5 linked regions of the Homo sapiens genome follow. The protein of the gene in region 4 interacts with the protein of the main gene of each other region in a pairwise test. Each region holds a gene or a part of one and is shown on either strand. Other genes may lie near its edges. The genes, in order: GPX8, BMP2K, TMEM14B, ZDHHC22 and CREB3L1.

Region 1 (2,313 bases), on a different chromosome or scaffold from region 4:
CAGAATTTGGGAGTCAAGTCACAGACTACTTAAATTGGGTCTTTTTCTTCTTAGACAAATTTATACGACTTTTTTACATTTTTGGCCATCTTCCTATTTAATTCTTTTATGCGATGAATGTATATTTCATGAGGCAATAATTAACCTTCACCAACTTGGCAGGTTGCTTTGTTAGTCAATTATAAGGCTAACAAAATATAAAGGTCATGACTTTGGGAGAAGAAATGCCTTGTGACTCTAAGAGGTTCAGTGACTGCTGATCTACACTTTAGGACTTGTATGATCACCCCCTTTTTATACTAGAATTTAGGCTGTTTGGAGTTGACTTTTACTATTTCAGCTATCAGAATGATGCAGCATTGAATTCCTCCCAAGTGGCTAATCTAGTACGAATACATTAGCAACCCAAATCAGCCTATAAGGAATCAAGTTAAATGATCTTATACTCATGTCCTTTTTTCTACACTTGGGATTTTCACGCAAAAATAAAGACTGACTTACTTGGTAATATTATGATTACAGAATTTGAGTTGCTTCTAAAAAATAATGCAGAGAGAAATACTGAAAATGATGAAGACTTTTTCAAATGTTATAATACGGTCATTTATAAATGACTATTTATATATGTCAGTTACATACATAGTGACAGTTATAGTAAAACACTAGGAACCTGTACTTAAAAAGAAAAAACAAAATCCTGTACACAAAACAAGCATACATATATAAGGATTTGAATCTATGTATATATATTTTACATTTTTCAACATTTGTGTTTTATTCCATTAACATAACCATTTACAGTTATTCCAGAAATTTCAGTCATACACAGTGCTCTTGAATCCAAAGAGTGGTCTAGTGTGTTGGCATTTTCATCAAGTACAGTCCTAGAAAATGTCAAGTTGAACAATAAGATATTGAGGCACATTGGTCACTGTGTATTCTGAATTCTTTAGTATGGTCAGAGGAAGTAGTTAATATATTTCATGTTGATTCTTTGGCTACTCTTGATTTTTGCTTTGGGTAACATCCTCATCCTGGGAACATTCATTACCACTTAATAGCAAGATAACATTAAAAAAAAATCCTTCATTGCCACATTTAATAGCATGTTTAAAAAGGCAGAGGTTGCAATGAGCTGAGAACGCACTACTGCACTCCAGCCTGGGTGACAGAGTGAGACACTGTCTCCAAAAAAAAAATGTTTAAAATGAGACCAAACCCTCATGGAGACATTTCTCTGTTCTATTAGAAACGCAATGGCATTCTCATAGATCCTCTTTCTTTTTTATGATCACTTGTCTAACCAGAGCTGCTATGTCAGGCCTGATGACTTCAATGGGCTCCTCTGGCTTCCAGAACTTCACAACTTGACCCTCAGGGTTGACAAGATACTTCCAAAAATTCCACCTTGGTTCCTTCTTTGAAGAATCTAAAATATCCAGAACATATTTTCATGAGCATAATTTTATTCTTTGTCAAGATTTTCACTTCTATTAGTATCTGCATAAATGATAACTTTAGTATCAAGTTCTAGGACTGTCATAATATAAAAAACAAAACACCCAAACGAAGTGAAACTCAAGGTTAGAGTAACCAGATTTCAATATACTTGATGACTTCACCTATGAGTCTACTCATCTAGTATGTGATCTTAGTATCAAGAAATGAAGCAAAGTAGGCTGGGAGCCGTGGCTCAGTCTGTAATCCCAGCACTTTGGGAGGCTGAGGCGGGTGGATCACCTAAGATCAGGAGTTTAAGACCAGCCTGCCCAACACGGTGAAACCCCATCTCTACTAAAAATACAAAAAATTAGCCGGGTGTGGTGGTGTGCACCTGTAATCCCAGCTACTCGGGAGGCTGAGACAGTAGAATCATTTGAACCTGGGAGGTGGAGGTTGCAGTGAGCTGAGACCACACCACTGCCCTCCAGCCTGGGGGACAAGAGTGAAACTCTGTGTCAAATAAAATTAAAAGCCAAAAAAAATGAAGCAAAGTTGTAATCCCAAATTGCTGGGATTACAGGTGTGTGCCACCACACCAGGCAAATTTTTGTATTTTGAGTAGAGATAGGGTTTTGGCCTCCCAAAGTGAATAATCACCTTATTTTGAAAAGCAATAACTTTTTTTTTGGCAGGGTCTCGCTGTGTTGCCCGGGATGGGCTTGAACTCCTGGGCACTAAAGTGATCCTCCTGTCTTGGCCTCCCAAAGTGCTGGGATTACATGCATGAGCTACCATGCCCAGCCATGATATCCTTTTGATAAATCTTAATTTATGTAAGAAATGTAGATTTTTTTTCTATTTATACCACTC
Region 2 (3,525 bases), on a different chromosome or scaffold from region 4:
AACAGTTTCACTGTCCCTTCTCAGTGGCTACACACCTAGAAAGGTGCCATGTGCTTTCACTGGAAGTACCACACTTGCATTTCTGTGTTGTGATGTCAGTAGCAGAAACCCTTAGTTAGAGCTTGCAATTTAGCTCCCTTTTCTCCTGAAGAGGAATCAAGTTACTACCCTGTAGAGATACTTCATTCTTCTATTTGGTTTATTTAGAAATCACCTATTCTGACTGATCTTTAAGAATGAATGCTATAAAGAGCTACCAAATTTTCTTTCAAATTCATAAAACTGTTCACACTTTTTTGAAACAGGAGTTAATGCCGAGAATCCATCAGAAGTATCTACTGTTTAGAAGGAAATGGAGCAGCACCAAATGGGTCTAATTCGACTGGTTGGGACTGTTGGGACTGATGTGGAGTGATGCTTTGCACCACAAGTTCTGTAAAGGGCACGGCACCAAAATCATCCATTTTCAATACATCTGCACTATGGAATGACCCATGTAGTGAATTTTGTCTTGGCCGCCCTGGCAGGACAGTATTGTGATCAGCACGGATGTCGCTCAGGCCCTGATGTGGAGGGTGCCATGACAGGTCTGGAGAATGGAAGGGCTTGGCACCGAAGGGGTCCAACAGGCTCTCCTCAGGTTGTAAGACATTCCCCCTATCTTTCCCATCAGTCAGTGCAACACTAATGTTCTCCTTGGAGTCTGAGATGGTTAAAAATTCATTGCTACTTTGAGAGTCTCGGCGGCCCACTTTTTTGTGCCTGCGAGCCCTCTCTGGAGTGCGATAGGTAGGCTTCAAAGTCTTCTTTGTGCTAGTTGGCGTGCCATGATGCCGCTTCCCATTACTTTTGGACATATCCTGCTTTGTGCGCCTTTGGCGAGAGGACAGTTTCTGTAAGCTGCGCTGTTTGACTTTTTGCTGCTGGCTCCCCGTTATTTCATCAAAGGGCACAAGCCCAAAAAGGTCCTCATTGCTTTCACTTTTACTTGTTGATGTGAGGAAGGGCTGAAATGGAGTGGAGCCAAATACATCTACACTTTTGGGATAACCAGGGATAGTATGTGCCTCAGGCCCCACTGCATGGCATTCTTGTACATTCACCTTCTTGCTAAAAGGCGCCTTTGTGAATACATCAAATTCCTCCTGCTCCAGTCCTGCAGCAGGAAACCTGTGTTGAGGGAGGTTCTTTTCATTCTTTTCTTGCTGGGGCTGTTGAGCACGCACTGCAAAGAAGGGGACAGCGCCAAATACATCAAACTCCTGTTTGGGAGTCTCCACTGCAACATCAGAGGATAATTGGGCTGAGGTGAGGAGTATTGTATTAAGATCTTGGGTTGGTCCACTGCCAGATCTGTCTCTGTAGACAGAGCTCATGTCACTGTACTTTGCTTTAGCCTGCTCATAATCAGAATCAGAGCTATGTTTCTCCTCTTCTTCCTCATCTTCAGAATCCATGAGGAGAGGCCTATGACCCAGATTTTCTGGTTCAGTATCATCATCATTAAAATCTCCTTGTTCCCCCTGAAGAACTTCTTCATCATCTTGCTCTTCCTCTTCACTGCTCTTAGGAGAAGGGGGATCTGATTCAAAATCACTTTCAGATTCATCATTCCCCTTTTGCACTTGACCCTGTACTGAGGTTTTCTTTCCAGTCCGCTGATCTTTAGATGCTGGACTTGTTTTACCGTTCTTGATAGGGTTTGCAGTGCCATTTTCTTGATTTATAGATGAATGTTCAGCTTTCTTTTCAGGAGAACCTGCAAGTTCAAATAAATATTATTACAGCATTCCAATGCATTTCAGAATCCTCTTGCACTAAATGTTAATATGTATTACACATGGCATTACAAATCCCTCATACGAGTTCCCTTAGAGGAAAAAATAATGTTGTCAATTCTTCGTCATTAGACTTAGAGAATGCATTTGACCTCAGGTAGATAGTTAAGTCTTAATGTAGACAGACTTATTCATATCTGGACCCTACACCCTGCCTCATCGTACTCTCACTGACAGCCAAATTTTATTTATAGCACACAGAATGTAGTAGACTAGCAAATTTTCTTCACCCCACCACCAAAATAACATTATTCTGCTAATTCTGAAAGCTCAGATTTCACATTCACCAAATACCTCCTGCTTATATTTCAACTCTTGTAAAGTTTTCCCATAGAGATCAACAAGCATGAACAGCCTGCCTGCTCAGTTACGTATTTGTTTCACTATTTTTTTAAATCAGCATTGTATTTTTTATAAACCACTATCTTTTGAATTGACTTAGCATGAATGGCCTCACCAAAGCTAAGGACCAGATACTAAATGGAGACTGTACCAAAAACATCTGCCTTCTCTAGATGATATGACTTCCTTTAATTATAATATCTATACATTACATTAAAAAAGCGAGATTCCTTTAAAAACAAATCTAAACCATCTGGAGATGTTTTTAGCTCAGAATCCATTCAGTCACTTCATTTTCTGAGTTCATTCAACGAAAGAAATATAGGGCACTTTGCTATACACTGATTATACATTGGTGAGTAAAAGAAACATGGTTTCTGCTTTCAGGGGTTTACAGTCAGAGGTTGTAAGTAAACATAAATTGTGACTAGTGCTCTGAAATAAAGGACAGCAGGGAAATGGGCGCATAAACCTACTTTGGACAGTGGTGAAGACCTCCCTAAGGAGACGACAGTTAGGATTGAACAATGAGAAGGAGCCCAGCCATGCAAAGGATAAGCTGGAAGCAGCTTCCAATAAAAGCAATGGCATATATAAAGACATATTTAAGGGGCTGAAAATAGGCTATTGTGGCTGGAATATAGTGAGCAAGGGAGGATCAGGTACAACATGAGGTAAGGAAGACTGGAAAAGGCCAGACTGTGAAGGTCCTCTAAGGCCATGATAAGCAGCGTATATTTCATTATACATCTAATTCAAAATTCCATGTATAATGGAAAGCTATTATTAAAATAGGTGTCATGATTAGGTTTACATAAAAAAAAATGACTGCTCTATAGAAAAACACTAAGGGGGCTGGGTGCGGTGGCTCACCCCTGTAATCCCAGCACTTTGGGAGGCCAAGGCGGGTGGATCACGAGGTCAGGAGTTTGAGACCAGCCTGGCCAACATGGTGAAACCCCATCTCTACTAAAAATAGAAAAATTAGCCAGGCATGTTGGCAGGTGCCAGCTGAGCCAGGAGAATCGCTTGAAACTGGAAGACAGAGGTTGCAGTGAGCCAAGATCGCACCACTGCACTCCAGTCTGGGCCAAAGAGCGAACTGTCTCAAAAAAAAAAAAAAAAAAAAAAAAGACTAAGGGAAGGTAAGAAGGGGAGTTCAGGCAAAAGGAAATTATAGTAATGCAAGTTAGAGATTTTGGTGGCCTAGATGACATGACAGTGGTGGCAGGGTGGGTCAAAGTAGAAAAAATAGAGATTGAAAACTCTTGGTGGATGGCAGCACCATTAACAGAAAGAAAAGAATGAGTGGCGTGATAGAAACCCATTTACCCTGATGTGATTA
Region 3 (3,363 bases), on a different chromosome or scaffold from region 4:
CTAAAAACAGGGTTAGTAAAAACAAGGTTAGGCATTACAAAAGAAGGCCTAGTCATAGTTCTGTCTAAGGAGGGAAGATGGCCTTCTTTCCTTTCCTTAGATGGAAGTGCCCTGCCTATTAGAGGAGAGAAAAATGGGGTGGGAAGACCCTGACTTCTCTGAGAAGATAGCACACTCTCCTTAACGCCTTCCTGCTTGAGTCCACCTTGGCTGTGAGCTGTGTTGAGAGTTCTTTGTGCTGTCCTTTGTAGGGCAGGAGGTCTGGTGGATTCCGTTAGTGAAATAAGTGCCTGACATTACAATGCAAGCTGCGTTTGCTTCCTTCTAGGCAGCGTGCCGTCCCTGGCTGCAGGGCTGCTCTTCGGCAGTCTAGCCGGCCTGGGTGCTTACCAGCTGTATCAGGATCCAAGGAACGTTTGGGGTTTCCTAGGTATGTCTGCTTCAGCGTCTCCTTAGGGCAATCATGTATCTGGAATATTCTTTTCCAAAAGACCCTGGTTTGGTGGGATGGAGCGAGTTCTTCCCACTTAATTTACGACAGTTTCACTGCTTCTCCAAGTCCAAGTCCTCAAAGTTTTAAAATAGGAGAAGGGTGGTGGGAATTGTCCTGGTTCCTGTTTATTGTTTATGTAGATAATATGGAAAGATTTCCATACCTTGTGAATTGTGTGACTCTCAGAAAGTCATCCATCCTCTGTGGGCCTTATTTTCAGTGTTTACCCAGTAGAATTAGTATCAAACTTGTATTACCCATATTTACCCAGTAAAGTCAGCATTAAACTTGTATAAGACAAATATGTGTCAACCGTTGAGGTTTTCCGCTGAAGACCATTGGCCTCAGTATCACTAAAATATCACGTATCTGGGTTAGGTTTGCAGCTGCGTTACGTTTTTCACATTTGAAAATCACCTCTTTAGCAGTCAGCTAACTAAATATATAAGACGTAGACCATGCTTTCAAGGAGCTTTCAACTGACTTCACTGGGGAAGTAAGACATGAGCATAGAAGCAGGACTGGAAAGGTACCCTGTGAGCAGCACGGACAGTGAGGACAGTGAGTGGTGTGGAGGACATAAGAGTCCTCATCAGAGTGGTTTTCAGTACATTTCTGTGGAGCTCCACCCATGTGTCAGACACTGCTATGAGTGTGGGTTCCTTGCGGTCTCTACAAACCCCGTGTGAGAATGAGTGCCATGTGGGAGGGAGAAGCCGTGTGATCTGTACATATCAGCTGGGGTGGGGAAGGGAGGTCCGTGATGGCTAATGGGGTGTGCTGGGGAAGGAGGTGTGTCCAGGTCCCAGCTCTGCCTAACAGCTCCCTCCCTCATGCTCCAGAATGACTTGAGCCTGCATTTTCCCTTTCTCTGATCCTACTCCACTCAGCAAATGACCTCACACCTATTGTAGAGAAAAAACAGCAGCCATCAGGTGGGGACTCCTGGAGCCTTTAATCTCCAAGCCTCCCCTCGTCCTGTTTCCCTCCTTTCCAACACCAGTGTCTTCCTCTGGGCTTTGGGTGTCTTCTCCCTGACCGTCTCCAGACCTTTACACTGGCCAGGATCCTGTCTTGTATTTGTATTCCTCCTTTTAGGTGGATCCCCGCATTGATATTCAGATGTGCTTGTCTCCTTCCCCTTCATAAACTACCTTTTTTTTTTTTTTTTTTTTTTGAGACGGAGTCTCACTGTGTTGCCCAGGCTAGAGTGCAGTGGCGCGGTCTTGGCTCACTGCAACCTCCGCCTCTTGGATTCAAGTGGTTCTCCTGCCTCAGCCTTCTAGGTAGTTGGGATTACAGGTGTCTCCCACCATGTCAGGCTAACGTTTGCATTTTTAGCAGGTGCAGGGTTTTTGCCATGTTGTCTGGGCTGGTTTGGAACGCCTGACCTCAGGTGATCTGCCCACCTTGGACTCCCGAAGTGCTGGGATTACAGCCATGAGGCAGCACGCCCAGCCAAGAGGGAAAGAGGGAGGGAGTGGGAGGCCAAAAGCCTACAGCACCTGGTGTTTCCCCGAAGGTGGGGTGGTAGTCTCCCATCCAAGTACCATGCAGGACCGGACCGACCCTGCTTTGCTTCTGGGATCAGACAAGATCTAGCACATTCAGGGTGGTATGGCGGTAGACCACAAACTTCTTAAAGATCATTTATGCAGCTGGGCGCGGTGGCTCACTCGTATAATCCCAGCACTTTGGGAGACCGAGGCAGGCGGCTCACCTGAGGTCGGGAGTTGGAGACCAGTCTGACCAACTTGGAGAAAGCCCCATCTCTACTAAAAATACAAAATTAGCCGGGCTTGGTGGCTGTCACCTGTAATCCCAGCCACTCAGGAGGTTGAGGCAGGAGAATCGCTTGAACCCGGGAAGTGGAGGTCGCGGTGAGCCGAGATGACGCCACTGCACTCCAGCCTGGGCAACAAGAGCGAAACTCCGTTTCAAAAAATAAAGATCATTTATGCCTCCTCTCCCATCACACATGATCAGCCCATTTCAGTCTCTGTTTCTGTCCCTGTGTTTGTGGAATAGCTCTCCCTGAGGCTGCCAGTGACCTGTGTTTGTACAAAATCCAATGTACATTTTTCAGTCCTCATTTTACTTGGCCATTTAGCAGTTCTCAGCACGGTTGACCAATCATTTTCCATTCTCCTGGTTTCCCTTTTTATCCTCTCATTCTCTTTTGGCAACCTATTTTCCTTTTTGGCCACTAGATATTGAAGTTCTTCAGGCTCTTCTTGTCTACTCACTTGACAGTTTCATTGAAGCCTATGCCTTTAATTTCCACCGATACACAAATGACACAAATTTCTCTCTCCTCCAGGCTGGACTCTCATGTATTCATCTGTCCACTTTCCTTCAGATGTCTCCAGGAATCTGCCCGGACCTAACCTCATGGCCACACACTCCCCCTGTCTTCTGTTCTCCATCCATTCGGTTCTTGATTGCTCTCTTTCCTTTCTACCACCCCCTTTCTGACTAATTCATCAGCAGGTCTTGTCGACACTACCTCTAGCCCTTATCCTGAGTTGTCCTCTTTTTCATCTGCACAGCCATCGTCCTAGTCCCAGTTATCCCCTCTTTCTTACCTGCATTCCCAAGGACGTTCCTTAGCTGGTATCCCCATGTACCCTCTAGTTTCCCTGAAGTTTGTTCTCTATAGTATAGCTAGAATTACGCTTTCAAAATGCAACTCTGGGCCGGTTGCGGTGGCTCCTGCCTGTAGTCCTAGCACTTTGGGAGGCCAAGGCAGGCGGATTGCCGAGCTCAGGAGTTGGAGACCACCCTGGGCAACATGGTGAAACCCGGTCTCCACTAAAATTAAAAAAGGCTTCAGCATTGCTTGAACCTGGGAGGTAGAGGTTGTAGTGAGC
Region 4 (4,240 bases):
TAATTTGCATTTCAGATAGCCAATAGCAAATTTTCTCAGTGTATCTCATACAATATCTGGGACATAATTATACTAAAAAATTATGAGTTGTTTATCTGAAATTTTAATTTAGCGGGACGGTCTGTATTTTTATTTGCTAAATCTGGCAACTTTTGGGGTTGGGGTTTGGGGCCCGGCAACCTTTGGGGTGGGAGGTCTTTGTGTAGAGCCCAACCTGCCCGCCAAGGCCCACTCACCGGAGAAGAACTGGCTGATGGAGGTGGGCAGGAGCGTGAGGAAGGCCAAGGGGTGGGCGAAGGAGATGGAAAGGACAGCGGAGATGTAGGCCACGCCGGCCACCATGGAGTAGAGGCAGGCCAGGGAGGTGTAGAGGCAGAACAGGACGAAGTTGCGCATGTTCCTGCTGCCGATGCAGTTGCCGGTGAAGAAACAGTGATGGTCGTGCCTCAGGGTGACTCTGGCGCACACTCGGCAGAAGTGGGTGCTAGGTGAGGGGCATGGAGTCTTCCTGGCCGAGGCCCCCTGGCAGGCCCCCAGGTCGTCTGGGGAGTTCTGGATGACAAGGACGTAATTGCCCAGGGCGTTGGCCGAGAGGAATAGGAAGAGCGCCCCGTGGAGCAGGGCGGGCGAGAAGAGCCGGGCGGCCGCGGGGTCCTCGCGCATGCTGGGCAGGAAGAGGAAGAGCTGCAGCACGAAGGTCACCAGGGAGATGCACAAGAAGTAGGCGGGGGCCACCACGTTGAGCAGCCGCAGGGCCAGCATCCTCGATTACATTCCTGCGGGGCCCGGGGTGAGAAGAGGACTGACTGACTACGGCGTCCAGGGGGCGCCCTCGCCCGCTCCTCCGTGCCGCGCGTCTGGGGCACTGCACGCGACTCCACGCCCCCAACCCCCTGTCCCGCGGATTTCCCCTCCCCAGTTCCCTAACCCCGGATCAGGCAGGCCAGAGACCCGAGCCCGCAGCGGCCTCGGGTCTAGGCCCCACCTGGGGGTGAGTGTTGCCTGGGGTTTTGAGCGAGCTCGGCGCCTTGGCGCGGCAGAGTCTGGCACAGGAGGGAGGGACTCGTTTGCAGTCTTTAGGAGTTGTGAGGGTGGGGGGCACCGGGGGATAGGACTCCTCCCCTCTGTGGATGTGGAAACAAGCCCAGGTTTGGGATTTCTGGTTCAGACCTCCCTAGGAGGAGAAAGGGAAGGATTTGGGGTCGGGGGCAGGAGAATCAGCGGCACTTGACCTGCTGGAAATCCTGCTTCACACTCCCCTTTCTCCGTCCCTGCGTCCCCACCCACACACACATCTTGGGCAGCACTCAGGGACCTCACCAGGTTACCCAAGGCTCTTTGGAGGTATGTGTGCGTGAGGGACCACGATGTGTGTGTGTGTGTCCTTGTCTGTGACTCTGTACGTGTAATCTGTGTGCGCTTGAGTATCTGTATTTGTGTATGTATATATCTGCGTGTACAGACACGCAGCCTCTGCTATCTAGCTTTAAAAAAATCAATTGAAACAATCGATACACTCACACTCGCTCTCGGGCACCGGGTGAGGTGGGGGCGCAACCAGAATACCTGTGTCAGCGGGTCCTGGCCAGCACATCTCTCCAACGCTGGCTGCCCGGGCTATTTCTTTGCGAAGAGCGTTTTCATTTGAGGCGAAATTAAAATCCCCCCTTCGCGCCCGCCTCCCGCCCTCCTGCTGAGAGAAACCCAAACAACCCTCATGGCGCCGAAATCCTTTCCATGCCGACAAGCCCGCCCTGGGCGCACGAGTGGATGCTTGGCCAGCCTTTCCTGGGATCGACCCCGCCGCCGTGCTCAGCCCTCACCACGTCCCCATCCCACCCCACGCCTCACAGCCGGGGTTCCTGGCCAGCTTCGGAAGCCACCGAGAAATAGGATTCCGTGCGCCCGAGAGAACTTTTCCAGGGGCTAAGGAATCGGCCAGCCGGAGGCGCGAGAAAAGTTCTGGGAAGGCGGTTGCACCTAGGATGGGTGGATGCCACGGGGCCTCCGTCCAGGCTGTCCCGTCCGCACGGGTCGACTGGTCACCTTGGAATCCCCTTTGCAGGTCCCAGCGCCCCCCGGGAACCCGCAGCCTCCGCGGAGAGCGTGGGCCTCTCCCTACCGCTGGGGCGCAGCGCAGTGCACGCCTGAGGGTGGTCGCCGGGGGCTGGGCACGCCCCCAGTCCTGCGCCGCCGGGGGCTGCGGCGGTGCTGCCCACCCCAGAGAGCCCTCGGCCTGGGGCTCCGGCGAAGCAAGTGCCTTCCCGGCGCCGGTCGCCAGGGGGGCGCGGGAGCAGCCAGATGCGCCGCAGCGCTGGGAAGGCGGCGAAGGACAGGGGCTAGGGGAGTGAGGGGCGCTCGGCAGGCAGCCTCAGCCCTGGCCCTGCGCGGGAGAAGGGACAGCAGAGACCGCCCGTGGGGCCCCGGGGTGTAGGGAGCTGTCCGTTCAGCCCTGGCGCCCGCCTCGCCCGCGGCAGAGGGCGGCACAGCCGGAGCCTTGGAAAGACCGGCAGCGCCGGCAGCCGCGGGCTTCTCGGCCACTGCCTCCCGGACGCACGGGAAGCCGCCCCCCGCGCCGCCGCCGCCGCACTGCCGCCGTCGCAGAGGGGTGAGGAAATCAACTCACCGAGCTCTGGTCGCCGACAAGAGGAGCCCCGGACGCCGGCTCTCGCCCTGCCCGAGGCTGCAAAGTTGTGGACTCGGCCCGGCTGGCTCGCAGCCTGCGCTTCGCTTCGGGAACTGGGCAAGTAGCGGGGATGTGGGGAGGAGGGAGCGGGCAGCTGCTGGCTTCCCACTTGGGCGCCAGCGAGTAAGGGCCAGGAAGCGGCGGGGATGGCAGCTGGGCACCCCCCAGCCCCGCCACCCCTCCCTCCGCTCCTGGGGGCGGTGCTCTGGCCGCCAGTCTCAGCATCGTGGACTTGCCCCCTCCTCCCCTCTCGATTCCCCTTGAGCGGGCTGGGGCGCCCTGCCTGGTTTCAGCGCCCGTTCCAGCTGGGAGATTGGGATTCAGCCCTGATGTGGATTCTCCAGCCATCATCCTGCCCTTCCCTCTCGGCTAGGTCCCACGACCTTCCCTGCTCTCCACTCGGACTGAAGGAACCCTGGGGGCTTGAGAGGTCAGCTTGCCAGGGCAACACCCATGAAGATCAGCGTCATCTCCTCGGAAGGGCTGTGTACAGAGGGTTGGGAGTTGGGACTCTGGAGCCTGTCTACCTGGGTTTGAATATTCACCATTCACTACTGTGAGATCTCAGATTCCAGTTTCTTCGTCTGTAAATTCCAGTGTGATCTTAGATTCCAGTTTCCTCATCTGTGAAATAGAGATATGAGGGTTAAATGACAATCTATGTAAAACCCTTAAACAGGGCCTGCCCAGGGCAAGCACTGCTTGATTAGATCATAATTAGACACTACTTATCGGGCCCCTACTAGGTAGCAGGCATTGTGCTAAGCCTTTAGCATAAGATGCTTCCTTAATCCTCTCAGCCTGATCTGTGAAGCTGGCTGAGCCCCATTCTGGAGATGAGGAGGTTGAAGCTCAGAGAAGCTAAGTCTCATGTCTAAGGTCATACAGCCATTAAGTGACAGAGCCTGGACTTGAACCTGGTTCTAGCATTAATGCTCCTGCACTCAGCCTCTACACAGCCCAGCATCACCCTGGGACCCACGGGCAGCTCTGATTTGAGAGAAGGAAAGACAATGGGAGTTTATCCAGACACAGAGCTTGAACTTGGAGCTTCTTCTTTGAGCCTCACCCCCACCTTCTTATTTCTATTTCCTTCCCCTTCCAGGGCTCCGCTATTCTAAGGTGGGTACTGTGATGCGCCAAGAGGGTAGTGACACCAATGTGTATCAAACAGTGGGGGGTGGGGGGAGCAGAGCCTTAAAAACATCAAACACTGCAGGAATATTGGTGCCATCACCATCCTCAATTTCCTGGGTGTCGCAGCTCACCTACCTGCCCTGTTCCTCTCCTCTCGGTGATGGCATACTTAATAAATAAACATTTATTGCTTTCTCAACTGGCTGATTAAAACAAGAGCAATCCCTTGAAATGAGGGCCATATGCTGATCAGCTCAGCCTCTATTCTTGAATAACCACACACTGTTTCCTCTGTAATTTATCAGCATACATCAAAATAAAAAAGAGGCCAGGAAACCTTTTCACATTCTAAAAGGATCTGACATGTAAGTGAAAGAACAGTATATGCCACATGGTGGCCGTGAGCAGCTGGTAGCC
Region 5 (3,525 bases), on a different chromosome or scaffold from region 4:
CCGCGATTGACTGGAGGGTCAAGTGTGTTTTCTTCATCTGGGTTACCCTGGCACCAGCATAGATGTTCCTTCAGTGCCCAGTTGCTGAAGGAATGGACATGTGTATTAATGAATGAGCAAGTGAATTCCCAGCTGGTCCAGGGAAGCCGGAGGGACCTCACAACATATCGGGGCACAGACAGCACTTCTGTGGGACCCAGCATCCCCACCACCCTAAGGGATGGCCAGTCCAGGATCCTGAAAACCCCAGGATCCCTTCAGGAATCATAAGTACACCTCTTGAACACTTAGATCTGATTTTTTGGGTCTTGCTCTGTTGCCCAGGCTGGAGTGCAGTGGCGTGATAATAGCTCACTGCAGCCTTGAACTCCTGGGCTCAAGTGATCATCCCACATCAGTCTCCTAAGCAGCCAGGACTTCAGGTATGTGCCACCATGCCTGGATAATTTATTTTTTATTTTTTGTAGAGACGGAGTCTTTCTGTGTTGCCCAGGCTGGTCTCAAACTCTTGGCCTCAAGTGATCCCCCTGCCTCCGCCTCCCAAAGTACTGGAATTACAGGTGTGAGCCACCACATCCAGCCTGGGATTTTTTTAAAACAATTTTTCCCTTCCCTTACAAGGATTGCCCCAGTCTAAAGTAATTTTCTCTACAAATATAGTAAGTCCTTGAAATAGAGCAAAGTTCACTACAATGTGACCCAAACTTGACTTCTGTTCTATGCTCAGGCCCCTTCTCAAATAAAAGTGAGCAAAACTCCATTCTCTATGGGGCTGGTAAAAAAAAGTGACTGCCTCATGCTCCTGTGGTACTCTTTCTGTTTGGTCTGCTTTGTGCAGTAAGGTGTCACAATTTTTACTTTCCTGCTTTTTGTGATAGTACAGACCATCTGAAAAATACTGTTTTTCGTTAATTCTACAAAAATATTACTCCACATTTTATGTAATTGGAAAATTTATTTTTAAATTTGTATTATTATTATTACTTTTAGAGACAGGGTCTGGCTTTGTTGCCCAGGCTGGAGTGCAGTGATGCCATTATGGCTCACTGCAGTCCCAACCTCCCCAGCCCAAGTGATCCTCCCTCCTCAGCCTCCTAAGTGGCTGGGACCACAGGCATATGCCACCATGCCCGGCTCATTTTTTTTTTATTTTTTGTAGAGACGAGGTCTCCCTATGTTGCCCAGACTGGTCTTGAACTCCTGGGCTCAAGCAATCCTCCTACCTTGGTCTCCCAAAGCATTGAGATTACAAGCATGAGTCACCGCAAAGGAACATAATTGGAAATTTTTGACTGGGCATATTTATTGCATTATTGTAGAATTTTACTACATTGAGCATCTATTTTGTCCCATGTGACTGTGCTAGGTTTATGTCAATGCACAAAACTGATATGGACTCTCCTCTTATGGAACTTACTTTCTCGTGGAGGAAATAGACAATAGGCCATTAAAATAATTGCAAACTGGGTTAAGGGCTAGAAGATATCAAAAGACTAAAACAGAAAAGAACAGGGGGGTCCCACTTTAGGTAGTCAGGGAGCGTTCCCTAAGGAGGCAATATTTGAGCTGGGATCAGAAGGCTGAGATGGACAGACTGGGGGAAAAGCAGTCCAGATGACAGGAACAGCATGTGCAAGGGCTCTGAGGCAGGGCTGGAAAAGGCTTAGTCTTAAATTGGGTGAGTATGGATCCAGGAGTCCTAGAGCAATCTGAAGAAGAAACTGGGGAAAACGGAAGCCCTAGAGACAGTGCTCAAGAGTGACACCTGAGCCACAAGTTCAAATCCCCTGTGGGTCAGCCAGCTGTAGACTATTCTAGACCAGGGGCTGCAGAGGCCTGTGCAGTAGGGGGATGGCTCAAGGTAATGAGAACTCATTAAAAACCATGGAGAGCCCTTCCTGGACCCCAGAGACAGTGCAGGGTCTGCAGGACCTCGATGGCTGCAAATAGATGGGCTTAAGGACACTTTTCCCTCTTCTCTAAGAATGTGGGGTCTGGTTTGGGCCCCTTTTTCTTCATCCATCCATCCATTCATTCATCCATCCATCGATTTATTCATTCATCAACGGTTGTTAGGCACTGGGATACAGCAGTGAACAAGACAGACCAAGCCCCTGACTCAAGGAACTGTTCCCTCAACACTGGGGGAAGCAAAACCCAAATCAAACCTCTGCTCAAAACGAACTTAATGTTTTGATAGAGTAGGTATCAGAGGTCTCCTTTCTGAATAGGCACCCTGAGATTTGGGCTCCTCCAGTAGGTTTTTCATTAGATCTTTTCTAGCAGATTGCACTCTGAGACCAGAGTGCCTTAGCACTTCTGTCCTCTTTCCTGTTGGTGAGAACTTAAACAGAAACACACACAAATCTCCCCTTTTAAGGACTGTTAAAGGCCCACCCACAGACATAGGAACACCCAAACACACATACTTCTCTAATCTCCCTAAATCTCCCGAAGGCTGGGGGTGGGGGTGCCTCTCTGCTTCCCAGTTAGCTCAGGAGAAGCCAGGCTAGGCGTGTGGGGAGTAGCGATCAGCCTTAGCCCCCACCGCCTCCCCGCAATGCTGGGCTGGTCCCTGGGTCCCCGTCACTCCCACACCTGGCCTCCCCAGCTGCAGGGAGTAAACGGGTGTGCTGGGCAAACATCCTTGCAGCTTCCTGCTGCTCCCCTCTGAGAAAACAGACCTTTTCTTCCTCCTCCTTCTCCTCCCCACACCCTCCCAGCTGGGGCTTCTCTGGGATCCCAAGCCAGTTCCCTCTAGAGAAGCCAGACATCCCTTCCCCTTAGCCAGAGGAAGGAGGGGACAGCACACAGACCTAGTGTTTCCATCTGGAGAAACGACCTGCTCTCCCTCTGGTCCTTTATCCCAGTTCTTGGAGCCCAGACCCTCTCTCTCATACTGGCCAAGGGGCTGAAGGACCACAGAGTACAGTGGCTCAAGGGTGGCCACATCAGAAACCATGGGAGAGCGGGAGGGGCAGGGAGGAGATGCCCCCACATGGGACAGGAAGGGCAGCCCCCTTCTGAGGATCTCTGAGAATCGCATAAACAGAATTGCAGCAACATGAAGGTATCCTCATAGAAAGAAAAATAAGGCAGCCCAGCCACCTCCAAACACACTTGTCTTGACTTTGTGTACTCACTCTCCTGTCTGTCCAAGTGCATGCGTATTTCTTGCATAGTTGTTTTCAGGGTGAGCATACATTTTGCATTTTGCACAGAGCAACAGAGCACACATGATTTCCACATGATTTATGGCCCGTATCTGGATTTTTAAGGAGGATAGCGAATATTCTGCTCTCCATTTTCCAGACTGAGAGGCACACAGACGCCATCCCTACCCATCCTTAACCCTGGAAACATTTTCCTATCCTCATGCAGAATGAAGAAGTTGGGGGAAGGGTTGGAATGGGATCTCAGCTGGAAAGAACCTCGGATATGGAGATGGAGACCCCAGAGAAGGAAAGTGACTTGCTATGTTCACACAGCAACTCGTAGCTGAGCAATTCTCACTATCACGCCCAT

The links.
Region 1: the proteins of ZDHHC22 (region 4) and GPX8 interact in binary tests that used the Homo sapiens proteins (3 or more experiments, as listed by UniProt).
Region 2: the proteins of ZDHHC22 (region 4) and BMP2K interact in a two-hybrid assay, tested with the Homo sapiens proteins (one large-scale study listed by IntAct).
Region 3: the proteins of ZDHHC22 (region 4) and TMEM14B interact in binary tests that used the Homo sapiens proteins (3 or more experiments, as listed by UniProt).
Region 5: the proteins of ZDHHC22 (region 4) and CREB3L1 interact in binary tests that used the Homo sapiens proteins (3 or more experiments, as listed by UniProt).

The regions. Positions count from the first base shown.
Region 1 is NC_000005.10:55,163,171-55,165,483, reverse strand, and holds part of GPX8 (probable glutathione peroxidase 8), read right to left. Parts: intron 1,430-2,313; coding exon 1,266-1,429; 3' UTR 1-1,265.
Region 2 is NC_000004.12:78,908,844-78,912,368, reverse strand, and holds part of BMP2K (BMP-2-inducible protein kinase), read right to left. Parts: intron 1,760-3,525; coding exon 336-1,759; 3' UTR 1-335. UniProt on the Homo sapiens protein: May be involved in osteoblast differentiation.
Region 3 is NC_000006.12:10,750,805-10,754,167, forward strand, and holds part of TMEM14B (transmembrane protein 14B), read left to right. Parts: intron 1-328; coding exon 329-430; intron 431-3,363. UniProt on the Homo sapiens protein: Primate-specific protein involved in cortical expansion and folding in the developing neocortex. May drive neural progenitor proliferation through nuclear translocation of IQGAP1, which in turn promotes G1/S cell cycle transitions.
Region 4 is NC_000014.9:77,138,977-77,143,216, forward strand, and holds the start of ZDHHC22 (palmitoyltransferase ZDHHC22), read right to left. Parts: upstream 2,816-4,240; 5' UTR 2,627-2,815; intron 1,769-2,626; exon of another isoform or gene 1,567-1,768; intron 777-1,566; 5' UTR 763-776; coding exon 237-762; intron 1-236. UniProt on the Homo sapiens protein: Palmitoyltransferase that could catalyze the addition of palmitate onto various protein substrates and be involved in a variety of cellular processes. Catalyzes the palmitoylation of KCNMA1, regulating localization of KCNMA1 to the plasma membrane.
Region 5 is NC_000011.10:46,280,655-46,284,179, reverse strand, and holds part of CREB3L1 (cyclic AMP-responsive element-binding protein 3-like protein 1), read right to left. Parts: intron 1-3,525.